Linked DNA regions of Homo sapiens: regions 1 and 3 are each linked to region 2. Evidence: fine-mapped expression QTL. A gene starts in region 2. Each other region holds a variant in brackets. All regions are shown on one strand. Distances are between the middles of the regions.

Region 1 (5,247 bases), 58 kb after region 2:
TTACAAGGTACACATGGAAGCAAAATTTATAAAAAAAAATTGGGCCCGGCGCGGGGGCTCATGCCTGTAATCCCAGCACTTTGGGAGGTCGAGGCGGGCGGATCACGAGGTCAGGAGATCGAGACCATCCTGGCTAACACAGTGAAACCCCGTCTCTACAAAAAACACACACACAAAAAAAATAGCCGGGTGTGGTGGTGGGCGCCTGTAGTCCCAGCTACTCAGGAGGCTGAGGCAGGAGAATGGCGTGAACCCGGGAGGCAGAGGTTGCAGTGAGCCAAGATCGTGCCACTGCACTCCAGCCTGGGTGACAGAGCAAGACTCTGTCTCAAACAAACAAACAAACAAATAAACAAAAAATTGATTGGTTAAATTAAAGCAGTAGCTTCAAAGTCCTTAGTTTGAAGCTGCGTTTTCATGGTATCTAATGATTGTGTCTAGTTTGAAGTCATGTTAGGATCCAGCCATTCATGCTGAGTTGGGTTTCAGTTACCTTATCTAAGAACTCAGGGCACTGGGAGCGTCCTCAATCTAATGGCCTCCCAATTAATTATTTCAACATAATTTTCTGAGAAATCGGGTATCAATCTAATTCCTGTTTCATTGTAGGAGACCTATTTTTTCTTTCTGGAACTTTCTCTTTCTGGAACTTTTTCTTTGATACTCTTCAGTTTCACTGTGGTACATGAAAATGTAGGTTATTTCTTATCTCACCTCTTTGCAGCCTTTCGGTCTGAAGCCCTTCATCTTTCCTCAATTCTGGGAATGTTAGCTGTATTATTTATTCGGGTATTTCTTTCTCCCACTGCTTTTGGCTCCCCCTTCTAGAACATGGAATAGTGACAGGTATGCACCCCTCTCTCTTTCCCTCCTCTCAGCTCCGTGTTGCATGTGCCCTTTCTTTATTCTTCCACGATAATTCCTAGCACCATTCTCAACGGAGCTGGCGACGCAATGTCCACTCTTCAGTTGGGTCCATTGCCTTTTTATAATTCTGGCCGTCATAATACTATAAAAGCCAGCACTCCTTCTATCACAATCTGTTCGGTGGGGGAAAGGCTGTCACTTTCTTTCTTTCTTTTTTTTTTTTTTGAGATGGAGTCTCACTCTGTCACCCATGCTGGAGTGCAGTGGCGTGATCTCCGCCCACTGCAAGCTCCGCCTCCCAGGTTCAAACGATTCTCCTGCCTCAACCTCTCAAGTAGCTGGGACTACAGGTGCCCGCCACCATGCCTGGCTAATTTTTGTATTTTTACTAGAGACAGAGCTTCGCCATATTGGCCAGGCTGGTCTCAAACTCCTGATCTCAGGTGATCTGCCTGCCTCCGCCTCCCAAAATGCTAGGATTACAGGCGTGAGCCACCGTGCCCGGCCAAAGCTATCACTTTCTAAGTGCTTAACCTGTACCAAGCATGGTACTAAGTGCTTTACATATATATATTGAACACTCGTAACAACCTGCTGACATAGGTGCTGTTATTGGCCCAATTTTTCAGAAGGCAAAATGGAGACACAGAGAGAGGTTAGGCAATCTGCCCAATCTCACACAGCTGAAACACAGCAACAGGGTAGCGATCTGTGCCGGGAAGGTCGGCTGTAGGACCTGCGCTCAGTCATGTGCCACTTTGTTAGTCCACCTTTTGTATTATTTCTTTCCAGGTACTTAATATTGATTTTTTCTCTAACTTTTTATTTTGAAACAATTTAGGACTTACTGAAAAGTTGCAAGAACAGTACAGAGAGCTTCTGTACCTCCCTCACCCAGCTCCCACCACTGACAGCATCTTACATGACTGTAATATAATTACCAAAAGTGGGAAATTAACATTGGCACAGTGCTGTTCAATAAAGACCTTATTCAAATTTCACGGTTTTTTCACTAATGTCCTCTTCTGTTCTGTTCCATTTTGCATTTCATTGTTACTTCTCCCAGCCTCCTGCAGCCTGGGACAGTTCTTCAGTTTTTCCTTGTATTTCATGATCTGAACACTTTTATAGACTATCCACCAGTTATCTTGTAGAATATCACTCAGTTTGTGTTTGTTTGATGTTTTTCCATTTTGGAACGAGGTTATGCCTTTTTGGCAGTAATACTGCAGAAATGGGCTGGGCACAGTGGCTCATGCCTGTAATCCCAACAATTTGGGAGGCTGAGGCAAGAGAATCACTTGAGCGCAGGAGTTTAAGACCAGCCTGGGCAACATAGCAAGACCCCATCTCTACAAAAGAATTTTTAAATAGCCAAATGTGGTGGTGCATGCCTGCAGTCCAAGCGACTCAGTAGGCTGAGGCAGGAGGATCACTTGAGCCCAACAGGTGGAGGCTGCAGTTAGCCATGATCATGCCATTGCCCTCCAGCTTGGGTGACTGAAAGAGACCCTGTCTCAAAAATAATAATAACACAGAAATGATGTTTGGCGCGGTGGCTCACACCTGTAATCCCAGCACTTTGGGAGGCCAAGGTGGGCAGATCACGAGGTCAGGAGATCGAGACCATCCTGGCTAACATGGTGAAACCCCATTTCTACTAAAAATACAAAAAATTAGCCGGGCATGGTGGCAGGTGCCCGTGGTCCCAGCTACTCGGGAGGCTGAGGCAGGAGAATGGCGTGAACCCGGGAGGCGGAGCTTGCAGTGAGCCACTGCACTCCAGCCTGGGTGACAGAGCAAGACTCCATCTCAAAAAAAACAAAAACAAAACAAAACAAAACTTTACCAGGTGCACTCAAATGCAGGTTTCTTTGTTTTGGTGGGTTTTTTTTTTTTTTTGACAGAGTCTTGCTCTGTCACCCAAACTGAAGTGCAGTGGCACAATTTTGGCTCACTGCAACCTCTGCCTCCCAGGTTCAACTGATTCTCCTGCCTCAGCCTCCCCAGTAGCTGGGATTACAGGCATGCACCACCACACCTGGCTAATTTTTGTGTGTTACTAGTAGAGACAGGATGTCACCATGTTGGCCAGGCTGTTTTCGAACACCTGACCTCAGGTGATTCACCTGCCTCAGCTTCCCAAAGTGTTGGGATTACAGACGTGAGCCACCGTGCCCGGCCCTCAAATGCAGGTTTCTAATAACTTTGGAGATTGTGACATTAGAAAAGAGGGAAAAACTTTAGGACTCTCTTGGAGAGCTAAAATGTTCATGAATATCAAACAGGAGTTAACTGCATAGACTAAAGAAGTCTGA[AGCTAGCCAG/A]GCGCAGTGGCTCACACCTGTAATCCCAGCACTTTGGGAGGCCGAGGCAGGCAGATCATGAGGTCAGGAGTTCGAGACCATCCTGGCCAACATGGTGAAACCCCGTCTCTACTAAAAATACAAAAATTAGCCGGGCATGGTGGTGCTCACCTGTAGTCCCAGCTACTCAGGAGGCTGAGGCAAGAGAATGGCGTGAACCCCGGGAGATGGAGGTTGCGGTGAGCCAAGATCGCACCACTGCACTCCAGCCTAGACAGAATGAGATTCTGTCTCAAAAAAAAAAGAAGTCTGAAGTAATCTTTTTAACTTTGTTGAAAAGGTTGCTGATCTTTTGTTTTTCAGAGTCAAGAAAATTTTTCTGTTGAGCTATTTACAGCTTTTAGCAAATGAGTAAAGTATACTTCTGTAAACAAAATTCGGAGCGTATCTGTTTCTATCTGCCTGATTTGGAAACTATTTATATTCTTAATTTATGGCAATATAGTTATTTGCATAAGTGCAATAAGAATCTATTTTCTTTTGCAACAGGACACAATTGGAGAAATTGGTTATTTTACCAAGGCTTTGACTGGAATGGTGTGCTTTCTTTTAAGGAATGAAATTTGACTTGTAAAGTCAATAAAAGCCCTTGGGAAACTAGCCTCACACCTTGCCTGCTCAGTCCCCGGACAAGGTTTCTGATCTGTAATAAGTAAGAAATGTCACTTTCTTTCTTTTTTTTTTGGAGATGGAGTCTCTGTTGCCCAGGCTGGAGTGCAGTGGCGCAATCTCGGCTCACCACAACCTCCGCCTCCCTTGTTCAAGCGATTCTCTTGCCTCAGCCTCCCAAGTAGCTGCGATTATAGGCATGCACCATCACGCTTGGCTAATTTTTGTATTTTTAGTAGAGACGGGGTTTCACCACGTTGGCCGGGCTGGTCTCAAACTCCTGACCTCAAGTGATCCGCCCACCTCGGCCTCCCAAAGTGCTTGGATTACAGGTGTGAGCCACAGTGCCTGGCTAAGAATGTCACTTTCTAAAAGGTCTAGGAGCCCCAGGTTATCTTGGGACCCCAAGAGGAGAGGAATTTACTCAACTCACAGATATTTGAGGGCAGAAATCCATGGCAGGGCTCAGCTCTAAAAAAGTCTTATCTAAGATTCCTTCTATGGAACAGAGTTCCATCAAAGCCAATTTAAAAAAAAAGCTTATCTAAAAAATAATTATTCTTGCTGCCCTTTATACAAATAATCAGGCCAAGTGTAATAAAGCAAATTGGTCATACCATGATTTGTCTTTAGTAAAAATAGGAAACTAGAGAGAAAAAAGTTATATTTCAAGAACTATGGTACATGTGTTATTAAATTCTAGTCTCATCAGTTGTGTTGTTTGCATTTAGTGAACTTAATATCTGACATGCATTATTTGGACCAAATTTTTAAATTTTTGAAGCTATTTCTATTTTACCAATAATCTTTAAAACTGTCTTTATTTCCCAAAGATTATTTAAGTCACATGAACTAAAAAGCATTGCACTTTTAACTTTTCTGACAAAATTTTTTATTTAAGCTCTTATTATTAAACCAATTAATTAAAGCTCTTTTATATTCCACACACAACATGTACAAAAACACAGACAAACAGAAGTTAAAGACCCATCCCCTAAGCTGGGAATTGAACCCTGAACCCGGGCCGCCATTATGATGGCAGAAACCAAGAGAAAGTACGGCCACGTGGTTACAAGGCCAAGGTCCCAAGGACATGACGGACCAGAGGGAAGCCTCGTCCAGTTTACACACACACACACACACACACACACACAACACACACACCCCCACACACACCACACACACACCACACACACACCACACGCACACACACACCTCACACACACACACCACACATACCACACACACCCCACACACACAACACACACCCCCCACACACACACACCACACACACACCACACACAAACACCACACACACACCACACACACACCATACACACACACCACACACACACCACACGCACACACACACCTCACACACACACACCACACATACCACACACAC
Region 2 (5,139 bases):
TCACTGCCCAGGGGAAATCCCCTACTATAATCCACTTTCTAACTCCATTTCTTCATTTCACAAAACACAAAAACCCCTGTCCTCCTAGAGCTGACATTCTAGGTAAGAAGACAAACACCTATATGATACACAGTGTAATACAATAAATATATATACGATACATACACAACACATATGTGATACACAACGCAATAGCACAAGTACGTATATTATATGTATACGTGTGCCAGGTGTGGTGGCGCATGCCTGTGGTCCCAGATACTCAGGAGGCTGAGGCAAGAGTTCGAGGCTTGAGCTTAGGAGTTCGAGGATGCAGTGAGCTATTAGGTTGGTTGGAAAGTAAGCAAAAACCGCAATTACTTTTGCACCAACCTAATATGATTTTGCCACCACACTCTGGCCTGGGCCACAGAGAGAGACCCCATCGCTAATAAGTAATAAATAAATGTGTATCTGATACATAACTACACACCACAATCAATAGGCCTGTGATGTGGCCGGGCGCGGTGGCTCAAGCCTGTAATCCCAGCACTTTGGGAGGCCGAGGCGGGTGGATCACGAGGTCAGGAGTTCGAGATCATCCTGGCTCACACGGTGAAACCCCGTCTCTACTAAAAATACAAAAAAATTAGCCGGGCGTGGTGGCGGGCGCTGTAGTCCCAGCTACTCTGGAGGCTGAGGCAGGAGAATGGCACGAACCCGGGAGGTGGAGCTTGCAGTGAGCCAAGATCGCGCCACTGCACTCCAGCCTGGGCGACAGAGCGAGAGTCTTTCTAAAAAAAAAAAAAAAAAAAAAAAAAAGGCCTATGATGCATCAACAAGTAACAATGTAATAAAGATTCAGAGGCGGGGCGGATAAATGCTGCGGAGGAAAGTTAGGCAGAACCAGGGGCTGGTGGGAATGGATGGAGCGCAGGGTTTCCTGTTGCATGAAACGGGGGTCTGAGGAAGTCTAACTGACGACTGGGCATTTGAAAACCCGAAGGAGTGAGGGGGCAAGCCCCAAAGAGGTCTTGAGAAAAAGGGCTTCAGGCAATTATGCTGCCAGAGCAAGCCAGGCGGGGAGCTTGGAAAGCTCCAGAAGCAGCAAGGAAGCCAGGTAGCGACAGCGGAGTAGGGGAGGGGGAGGAGATGAGGTCAGGGAACCCAGGCAGGTGCAGGAAGGGGTTTGCGGGTGGAGCTTGCGTGCTTGGAAAGCTCCAGAAGCAGCAAGGAAGCCAGGTAGCCGCAGCGGAGTAGGGGATGGGGAGGAGATGAGGTCAGGGAACCCAGGCAGGTGCAGGAGGGGGTTTGCGGGTGGAGCTTGCGTGCTTGGAAAGTTCCAGAAGCAGCAAGGAAGCCAGGTAGCCGCAGCGGAGTAGGGGAGGGGGAGGAGATGAGGTCAGGGAACCCAGGAAGGTGCAGGAGGGGGTTTGCGGGTGGAGCTTGCGTGCTTGGAAAGTTCCAGAAGCAGCAAGGAAGCCAGGTAGCCGCAGCGGAGTAGGGGACGGGGAGGAGATGAGGTCAGGGAACCAAGGCAGGTGCAGGAGGGGGTTTGCGGGTGGAGCTTGCGTGCTTGGAAAGTTCCAGAAGCAGCAAGGAAGCCAGGTAGCCGCAGCGGAGTAGGGGAGGGGGAGGAGATGAGGTCAGGGAACCCAGGCAGTTGCAGGAGGGGGTTTGCGCCGGGTGGAGCTTGCGTGAGGAGCGCTTTTGGATCGTCCTCCGTGAGTTGGGCGCCATGGCTGCCTTCTGGGCAGAGTGCAGGGCCTGCCTTAAATGTTGTGGGGGTTCTGTTCTCAACAAAGGCGTAAGTTGGGAGCGACTGAGCCACTCCAGGAGGAGGTGTGGGCCCACGGCGTGTTGGAGGTGGAGCCACAGGACCTGTCCATAGGTTGGATGCTGTGTGGGTGACAGAGAGAAACCGGGGCTCACGGCCTGGGCAGCGGGACGGGCGGAGTCGTCCTCACCTGTGCTGGGGACCCTGTGGGAGCAGCAGGCTTCCGAGCACGTGCTGGACCCCGGCGTCTCCGGCTGCACCGAGTGGTCAGGACATTGAGGCCGGGTCAGGGAGCGTGAGATACCGGGACGAGCGGGCCCAGGGCTGAGCCCAGCGGCGTCCGGGTGGGCGGTGGCGTTGAGATGGGAATTGGGAATTGCACCGGTGGTCTCAGGAGGATGGAAAACCCAAGCAGCAGCTGCACCAGGACCGAGGCAAAGGGACCGCAGTTTAACAGAAAACCCAAAACGAGAGCGAGAAAACGGCCAAACACCCGTGCGAGTGAGACGTCCATGAGCCTTCCCGGCAAAACGCCCAATAAGGGAGAAGGGGCAGGCGCGGCGGGGGCCGGGGTTCCCTGAAGTCCCCTTCGTTTCCAGAATCCCTAAAGATCATTCCGCCCCCCAGGGAGGAAACCCAAGCTCCGCCGAGCGCGGCGGGTCTGTGCCTTCGCTTCGCTTCCAGCCTCTCGCTTCCTTCTGACCCGACCCCGAGTTCTTTCTCCGGACGGTGTCGAGAACCCGGGCGCCGGCTGGGGCTGGAGTCTCGCTGGCCTCGGAGCGCCCCCGAGCCCTCGGGCGACAGCGAGGCGAGGACCCAGGTGGAGGCGGCCGGGGGCGCGGGCGGAGGGAGGAGGCGCGGGAGGGAACCCCCGGCCCGCGGGCCCCACCCACAGCCGCCCCGGGACGCAGCTCGGGGTCCAGGCTCGAGCTTTGCTCACTCAGGGCGCTTCGTGCAGGGAACGCCAGGCCCCCGGACGCGACCCACGCGGCCGCTGCCAGCGGGGACCGAGGGGAGCCGGGGCCGCGGCCGCGAGTCCACGTCCCGCCCCCGGGCCCGGCCCAGCGACCGCCCCCGCCGCCCAGGGACCGCCCCCGCCTCCCAGCGACCGCCCGGGCCCTCGGGGCGGGGACCGCGGACCTTCCTGGTGGCGCGGCAGCCGGGCGGCTCCTCCTTCCTCCCGGCCCTGGCGTGGAGCAGAGGGACACAGGTTCCCACGCTGGCGCCCGGCGACCGGGTGGGGCTGCGGTGAGTCCCAGAGGCCCCCGCCCCGCAGCTCCCGGCCGCCCCGGCCCGTCCCCCCAGCCCCCGGTCGCCCCATCCTCCCTCCCCCACCCGCGCCTGCCCCAGCCGCCTACACCCCCGAGACCCCCACCCGCCCGGCGCCCCGGCAGCCCCGGACTCCCTCCCCCATCCCGCCCAGCGCTCCCCCCACCCTCCACACACGCCCGCCCCCACGTGCCACCAACAGACGCAGGTCCCGACCACAGAGGGTGGGGGCAAGACCGGGGTTGTGGGGGGTGCGTTTGGAAAGCAGGGTTAGGACTGGAATTCTAAGGTAGCAGGAGGGAGAGACACACTCAGGGGCTCAGCTGGGTTCCTGGAGATCAACCTTTGGGGTCTGAGCCCCTCTGAGAGTCGAGCTCCTTTCCTGCGAGGCCCCGTCTAGGAGGGGCCTCAGGAAAATCGGGGCTGCCCAGCTGGTTCCGCAACTCCCCCCAGTTCTGAGGGAGGCTTCAGGGGATTACAGACGGTCTCAAGAGGGAGGCCCAGCCAGTCCCGCGGCCCCTGACACCCCATCAGGCCGCTCAGGCCCAGCAGCTCCATGGAGGACGCCGGCGAGGACCCCACCACGTTTGCTGCCCACTCTCTGCCCAGTGACCCCCGTCTCTTGGCCACTGTGACCAACGCATACCTGGGCACACGAGTGTTTCACGACACGCTGCACGTGAGCGGCGTGTACAATGGGGCTGGCGGGGACACGCACCGGGCCATGCTGCCCAGCCCCCTCAACGTCCGGCTGGAGGCCCCTGCAGGGATGGGGGAGCAGCTGACCGAGACCTTCGCCCTGGACACCAACACAGGTAGCGCCACCTGGCCTGCCTCACCCCTGCCCCAGGCATTGTTCCAGGTCGGTGGGGCAACCACAGCATCGAATCCCACCAGCACCTCCTGAGTTTACACAGGAAGTCTCACTAAGACAGGAGGCCCCAGAGGCCCGCAGGGTCCCCCCTTCCCTCCACCTGGAGGCCTCCTGTGCAGCTGTAGCGGGAACGAGCAGCCGAGGGCCCAGAGGGATCCGCCTCATTGTGGGGAGAGGCAGCGGTCGGGTGGTCCACTCCTGCCCCAGAGAGGCCATAGCTTGGCAACCCACCTGCCTTCGCTTCTGCCTCCCCAGGCTCCTTTCTTCACACCCTGGAGGGCCCCCGCTTCCGGGCCTCCCAGTGCATCTATGCGCATCGCACGCTGCCCCACGTGCTGGCTTTCCGAGTGTCCATCGCCCGCCTGGCCCCGGGGAGCGGGCCCATCACGCTGCTCCTGCGGTCAGCCTTCTCCCCAGAAAGCCCAGACCTGGACCTGCATCAGGGTCCTGACTTCCAGGGAGCCCGGTAAGGAGGGGGCTGGATTTGCAGCCAGGGAGTCCAGGGAGGGAGCTCATCCCTGAGGCATGGCCACGCTCTCACAGGTACCTGTATGGCCACACCCTCACCCCTGAGCAGCCCGGGGGGCCACAGCAAGAGGTACACATGCTGTGGACACCAGCACCCCCAGACCTGACCCTTGGGGAAGGTGAGGAGGCTAGGACGTGGGACTTCCTGACAGCAGTGGGCGGCAGCCAGGCTGAGGCTCAGGCCTGCCTCACTGAGGCCCTGCAGCTGCAGGCCAGGGGAGCTCTGTATACGGCTCACGCACAGGCCTGGGCCCAGCTCTGGGTAGAATGTGGCTTGGACGTGGTGGGGCCCCTGCAGCTGCGCCAGGCCCTGCGTGGCTCCCTCTACTACCTGCTCAGTGCCCTGCCCCAGCCCAAGGCCCCAGGATACATCTGCCATGGCCTCAGTCCTGGGGGCCTCTCCAATGGGAGCCGTGAGGAATGCTACTGGGGCCACGTCTTCTGGGACCAGGTGAGCACTGTACACCCAGCACCAGCCACACAGCAGGCGACACATGGAGGTCCACGGTCTCTGCCCTCCCTGGGACCAGGGCTATGGTTGGGGAAGCACAGGGACTGTGGCAAAAGGGAAGAGGCCTGGAAGGTGTGCAGGAGTTTGGTAGAGGAGTGATCTAGGTGAGGGGAATGGAAGGTGCAGAGACCAGAGCTGAGAGGGCCTGAGGCACTTTCCAGAGCGTGGGGAGGGGCCTCCACCAAGGCGAGAAGGGCTGCA
Region 3 (5,247 bases), 33 kb before region 2:
GCACCAAGGACTAACGAAGACGCTGGTCCTATCTTTATTGTTAGTCAAGAGAGACCTAGGGGTATCCACTCCCTTCTCCAGCCCTCTCAGGTACCTGCCCCGACACAGGCATCCATCCACATCCTTGTCACCACTCATCATTCAAATAGCCACCAGCATCTGTGACCTGGTGTGCCCCAGTGCGGACATGAGCCATCCCTGGGACTGGGCATGTAAAGGAAACCACCTTGAGGTTCCCCGTCTGGGAGTGGAGGTGCACGTACACAAAGAATCACAGAGTGAACATTAGGTGGAAGGACAGTTTAATGTGATCTTTCAGTCCTGGGCCTGCAGTGACAGCATGGAGCTCTTGCAGCTCTCCAGGTCGGGTGAGACCCAGCCTCCAGGAACCAGGAAGCTGATGAATGTGAGAGCCCCACGGCCTGCTCCTGTTGGAGGAAAGCACCCACAAGTCTGCTAGGCTGGCAAAGAACAGTTGTCCGGCATCTTCTCCAGCCTTTTCCTCTTTGGTTGCTGGTGTCTGAGCTCCTGGTTTTTTCCACCTCGTCCAGGCCTCGCCTGACCTCATGGCCCCAGACCCCTCTCGGTCTTTCCACCCACCCTCTCCAGACCTCGTTTGGCCCTGGTCCAGATGGCCTGACACCCCAGCTGTTCCTCGTCAGTCACAATTGCTGGGATCTATTGACCACTAGCCTTTATACCCACCTCACTGTCAAGTTCCCAAGGCCCTGTGGTGCACCCTTCAACCTTCCGCAGCCCCTCTCAGCTGCTCAGGCCAAATGTCTTAGTGTGAGCCTCCATTTCCCTCAGACACTCATGTGTACATCGAGCCCGCTGACTCCCCACCCTCCCTAAGTCCAGCCTCAAACCTGTCCTCCATAACCGCTCCTCCACACAGCAGCCCAGACAGTCTTCCAGAACAATCAGGTCTTGTTGCTGCCGCTGCTCAGCATCCTCCAACAGGCTTCACTCACCCCCAAGGCCTGAGTGCTCTGACCACTGCCTGCCTTGCTGGTCCTGCTCCTACCCTCATCTGCTCTCCCTGCACCCCACCAAGGCTCCTGCCTCATCCCAGACATGAGCTGATCACAGCCCAGAGAGACACAATTCTGCATGCTGAAATCCCGAAAAATCAAAATTCTGAAAATATATTTCTGGAAAAAATAATTTTAAAATTATTTAAAAGATATTTATTTACTTTTTTTTCATTTTTTTATTTTTGAGACGGAGTTTCACTCTTGTTGCCCAGGCTGGAGTGCAATGGCACCATCTCCGCTCACTGCAACCTCTACCTCCTGGGTTCAAACAATTCTGCCTCAGCCCTCTGAGTAGCTGGGATTACAGGCGCCTGCCACCACACCTGGCTAATTTTGTATTTTTAGTAGAGATGGGGTTTCTCCATGTTGGTCAGGCTGGTCTCAAACTCCTGACCTCAGGTGATCCGCCCGCCTCAGCCTCCCAAAGTGCTGGGGTTACAGGCATGAGCCACCACGCCTGGCCATCTATTTACATTTTTAAAGGGGATTTATTTGAGAAACATAAAAACATGACATATGACAGAACACATCATAGGCCACTTCACACAATAAAATAGACAATAATAATATCCATGTTTCTGCAAGTGTAAACAGTCATACCAATGACAGTTATGCACAGATGAGCTGTATTCGTAAAGAAATGTGTTGAGAGGGGAAATGCATGAACACCTACCGCTCGGGTGGGAATTGCGTGCGCCCAGGTTCATAACTGCAGTCTTCCGAAAAGCCAGGATGAACAACCTACGCCTTCTAACAGGCTCAATCTAGAACCGCAACAGTTCACCACCACATAGCCAGTCACCAAAAAAACCAAGATCTAGAGAAATTTTTCACAAATGCAGATGTACAAAAAGGACATCTCTTCATTTATTGAGGAAATATCCCATTTTTACCTACACACACAGACAACATTGTGGTAATGCACTTCTGTGGAGTCAGTTTTGCAAAAAATGCCTAAAACAAATTAGAACACTGTATAAGTGTTCTAATTTATATCTTCAGTATTGAAATGATGCAAGGATAAAATGAGAGCATAGTGAACTGTAAAAAAATAATGCTGACAATTTATGATGATGAAAAAAGCTAAAAAAACTATACAGAAAATTCAACTTGAAAAAGCCATATATGTCGAATTTTCTGTGTAAGTCATATTACAGTAGATTATGGGCAACTATGCAGAGATATTCTGTAAGAGCTGGCAAACTTCCACGACCCCATTAACTATATTCTGAAGTCTTGCATCACAATGAATAGCTGTTTTTTTTTTCTTTTAGGACATGGCTTTCCTTGGAGAATACATTCAAATTCATTTTCTAAGTGGCGCTACTTTTTAAAAATTTCTATGATTCCTGTGATTGTGATTTTTGGAATTTTAAATATTAGAGATTTTACACTTTAGATATTTTGATCTTTCAGGATTTCAAGACTCAGGAGTGTGTCTTTCAGGATTATAATCCAAACACATCCCAGACACAGGGCACTCCCACCCTTCACTGGCGCCTTTGTCTGGACAGCCTTTCCCTCAGGTTTTTACTTGTTTCTTTAGATCATTTAGGCTTTGCTCAAATGACATCTCCTTAGATATATCTTGTTTACTCTCTGTTTTTGAAGCTGGAATGTAAGTCCCATGAGGGCAGAGACTCCGTTGTGTTCACCACTGAATCTTTGGAGCCTGGAGCAGTGTCTGGTTTAGCAGACTTTTTCAGTCAATGTTACATGGATGGATGGACAGATGGGCATATGGATATATGGATGGATGAATGGATGGGTGGATGGGTGAGTGGATGGACAACAGATGAGTGGATGGATGCATGGATGCATGGATGGATGGATGGATGGATGGATGGATGGATGGATGGATGGATGGTGGGTGGATGGATGAGTTTATGAATAGGTGGACGGACAGATGCACGGATGGATGGATGGATGGGCAGATGGGTGGGTGGGAGGAGTGGATGGGTGGATGGATGCAGGGATCCATAATGGATGGATGTGTGGATGGGTGGATGGATAGATGAGTGGATAAGTGGATGGATAGATGCA[TGGACGGAC/T]GGACGGACGGACGGACGGACGGACGGACGGACGGACGGATGGATGGATACATGGGTCGGTGGGTGGATGGATGAGTCAATGGGTGGATGAGTGGATGGGTGGATGGATGGATGGGTGGGTGGATGGATGGGTGGGTAGGTGGGTGGGTGGATGGATGATTGGAGGAGTTGTTATAAGGATGGATGGAGTTTCTATTGTATGCTGGGCACTGGGCTAGATTTGAAGGATACAAAGCCAAGTCAGACATGAGAGACAACTGTGGGGATTACACTTCTCCTTCAGAATGACCCACAGTATTATCACTGACAATGAAAAAGGCCACAGCTGAGTCCAAGCCCAGGAGCCAGTAGAAGCAGTAGGACATCTGACCCCACCTAGGCCCCCAGATTTATCCATGGTCATTGTCTGTACCTCCAGGCTTGGCTGTGGTCATCACCCTCACTATGGACAATCACGCCCCTATCTGTTTGTTTTGAAATGGTAAATTGGTGATACGAGCAAATTTCACTAGGAACATGATTTTACTTTTGTTCTTCCCCAGAAACCACATTTGTCCTAAATGTGAGACTACTTCCTAGGCTTTCCACCCCACCTTCCGGGTCCCTGGCCAGTCTTCATCTGACTTGGTTTCTCAAGCAGGAGCCAAGTCCTGTGAGGCCAGAGGAAGAAGGGTGTCCTGAATGTTATCTCCAGCAGTGCTGGGCTCCTGATACCAGCCTCAGGCAGTGGGGGGCTCTGCCCCTCCTCTGTAATAATCCCTTCCGCCTGAACCTTTAATTATAGCTTTGGGGTCCAGTTCTGGATAAGGCTGTGGACCTGAGTGCGTGTTCAAAGGATCAGTCTCCCAGGCTATGGTGTTTTGTCTTTTACAGATAAGAACTAGCTGCACCACCACCCAGGCTTGCCCCCGAGGGAGGCCTCCACCTCTGCCCTTTTTGGGCTTCAGTGGAGTGGGGGGTGCAGGTGGCGTGTGTGGGTGGGCAGTGGAGAGGCCCACTGTGCTTCAGGACGTTAGGCTTCCAAACAAGCCCCCAGCCAGCCCAGCCTTGGGTGGGTGATGCCCCCGATGAAGGCTGAGAGGAGGGAGCTGGCAGGGGTGGGAGCAGCGATGCCAGGAGGAAACACTGCCCTCCAGGAGAGAGAGGTTTTGTCGGCCTCCCTCAAGCCCAGATGGCCACGCCGTCCACAGCCTTCAACCTCTTCCCACCTGCCCACTCACCGGTCTTCCGACCTTTCTGACCTTTCCAAGCACAAACCTGTCCTCCTCACTTCACACTCACGCAGCTTCTACTTCTGGGGCCCCACAAAAGCAGAAGTGAGCTTTGGTCTTTATCCTAGCCTTGTTTTTAGTCCCCAGTTTGAACCACTTGTTCAAACCAAACCCTGTGGTTAAAGATCCTGAGTCCCCCACCCACAGCAAGGCTGCCCCAGATGGCCTCTCCTGTCATCATCCTGAGGCCTGGACCCTCTTCCCCGCCACCCCCAGGTCTGCCCTTTAATAGAAAGAAAATGATGTGACCCAGAGAGAAAGAGAAGGTGGCCAAGTGGGGCTGCAGGATGGAGATTAAGGCCCCACGTAACAGCTGGGGAAACTGAGACTTGAAGAGCATTCAGGGTTGCAGGCTCAGGGTTCCAGACTCATCCTGGCCCATCCTGGCTCATCCTGGCTCATCTTGGCTCATCCTGGCCCATCCTGGCCCATCCTGGCCCATCCTGGCTCATCCTGGCCCATCCTGGCTCATCTTGGCTCATCCTGGCCCGTCCTGGCTCATCCTGGCTCGTCCTGGCCCATCCTGGCTCATCTTGGCTCATCCTGGCCCGTCCTGGCCCATCCTGGCTCATCCTGGACAGGGGCAGCATCGGAAGGTGCGCTCAAGGCCGTGGATGGACAAAAGTAGTCCTGTTACCTGAATCTTCACCCTCACCTTCTTCAGCCACTCAGCACATACCTATCAAGCTTGCCCTGGACATACCCCTAACGCACCTGGGAGGCGGGAGGGAGACCAGCCACCACGCACACCCTCTCTCACAAAGCTGCAAGGCCACCTCGGCCTGCAGGACCACCTGGAAAGTCCGGTGGACACCTGTGGGCACATGGCACCACCCTGTGTCCAGACTTGGAACCACAGAAGCTGCTGGAGGAGGCACAGACGGGGGC

What was found.
Region 1: its variant is fine-mapped to the expression of PGGHG in aorta (GTEx, PIP 0.96).
Region 3: its variant is fine-mapped to the expression of PGGHG in monocytes (BLUEPRINT, PIP 0.94).

The regions. Positions count from the first base shown.
Region 1 is chr11:344,538-349,784 of GRCh38, forward strand. No RefSeq gene overlaps it. Among named protein-coding and RNA genes, the nearest start is that of B4GALNT4, 22 kb to the right of the region's middle. The variant AGCTAGCCAG/A (reference allele first, on the strand shown) is at 3,186.
Region 2 is chr11:286,236-291,374 of GRCh38, forward strand. It overlaps PGGHG (protein-glucosylgalactosylhydroxylysine glucosidase), which reads left to right and starts at 2,891. Exons shown (of 14, transcript NM_025092.5): 1 at 2,891-3,004; 2 at 3,569-3,840; 3 at 4,155-4,365; 4 at 4,443-4,878. The coding sequence starts at 3,582. RefSeq lists enhancers at 1,538-2,067, 2,068-2,597 and silencers at 2,481-3,010, 3,021-3,080.
Region 3 is chr11:253,131-258,377 of GRCh38, forward strand. It overlaps the pseudogene COX8BP. Among named protein-coding and RNA genes, the nearest start is that of PSMD13, 19 kb to the left of the region's middle. RefSeq lists an enhancer at 4,438-4,938 and a silencer at 5,155-5,234. The variant TGGACGGAC/T (reference allele first, on the strand shown) is at 3,081.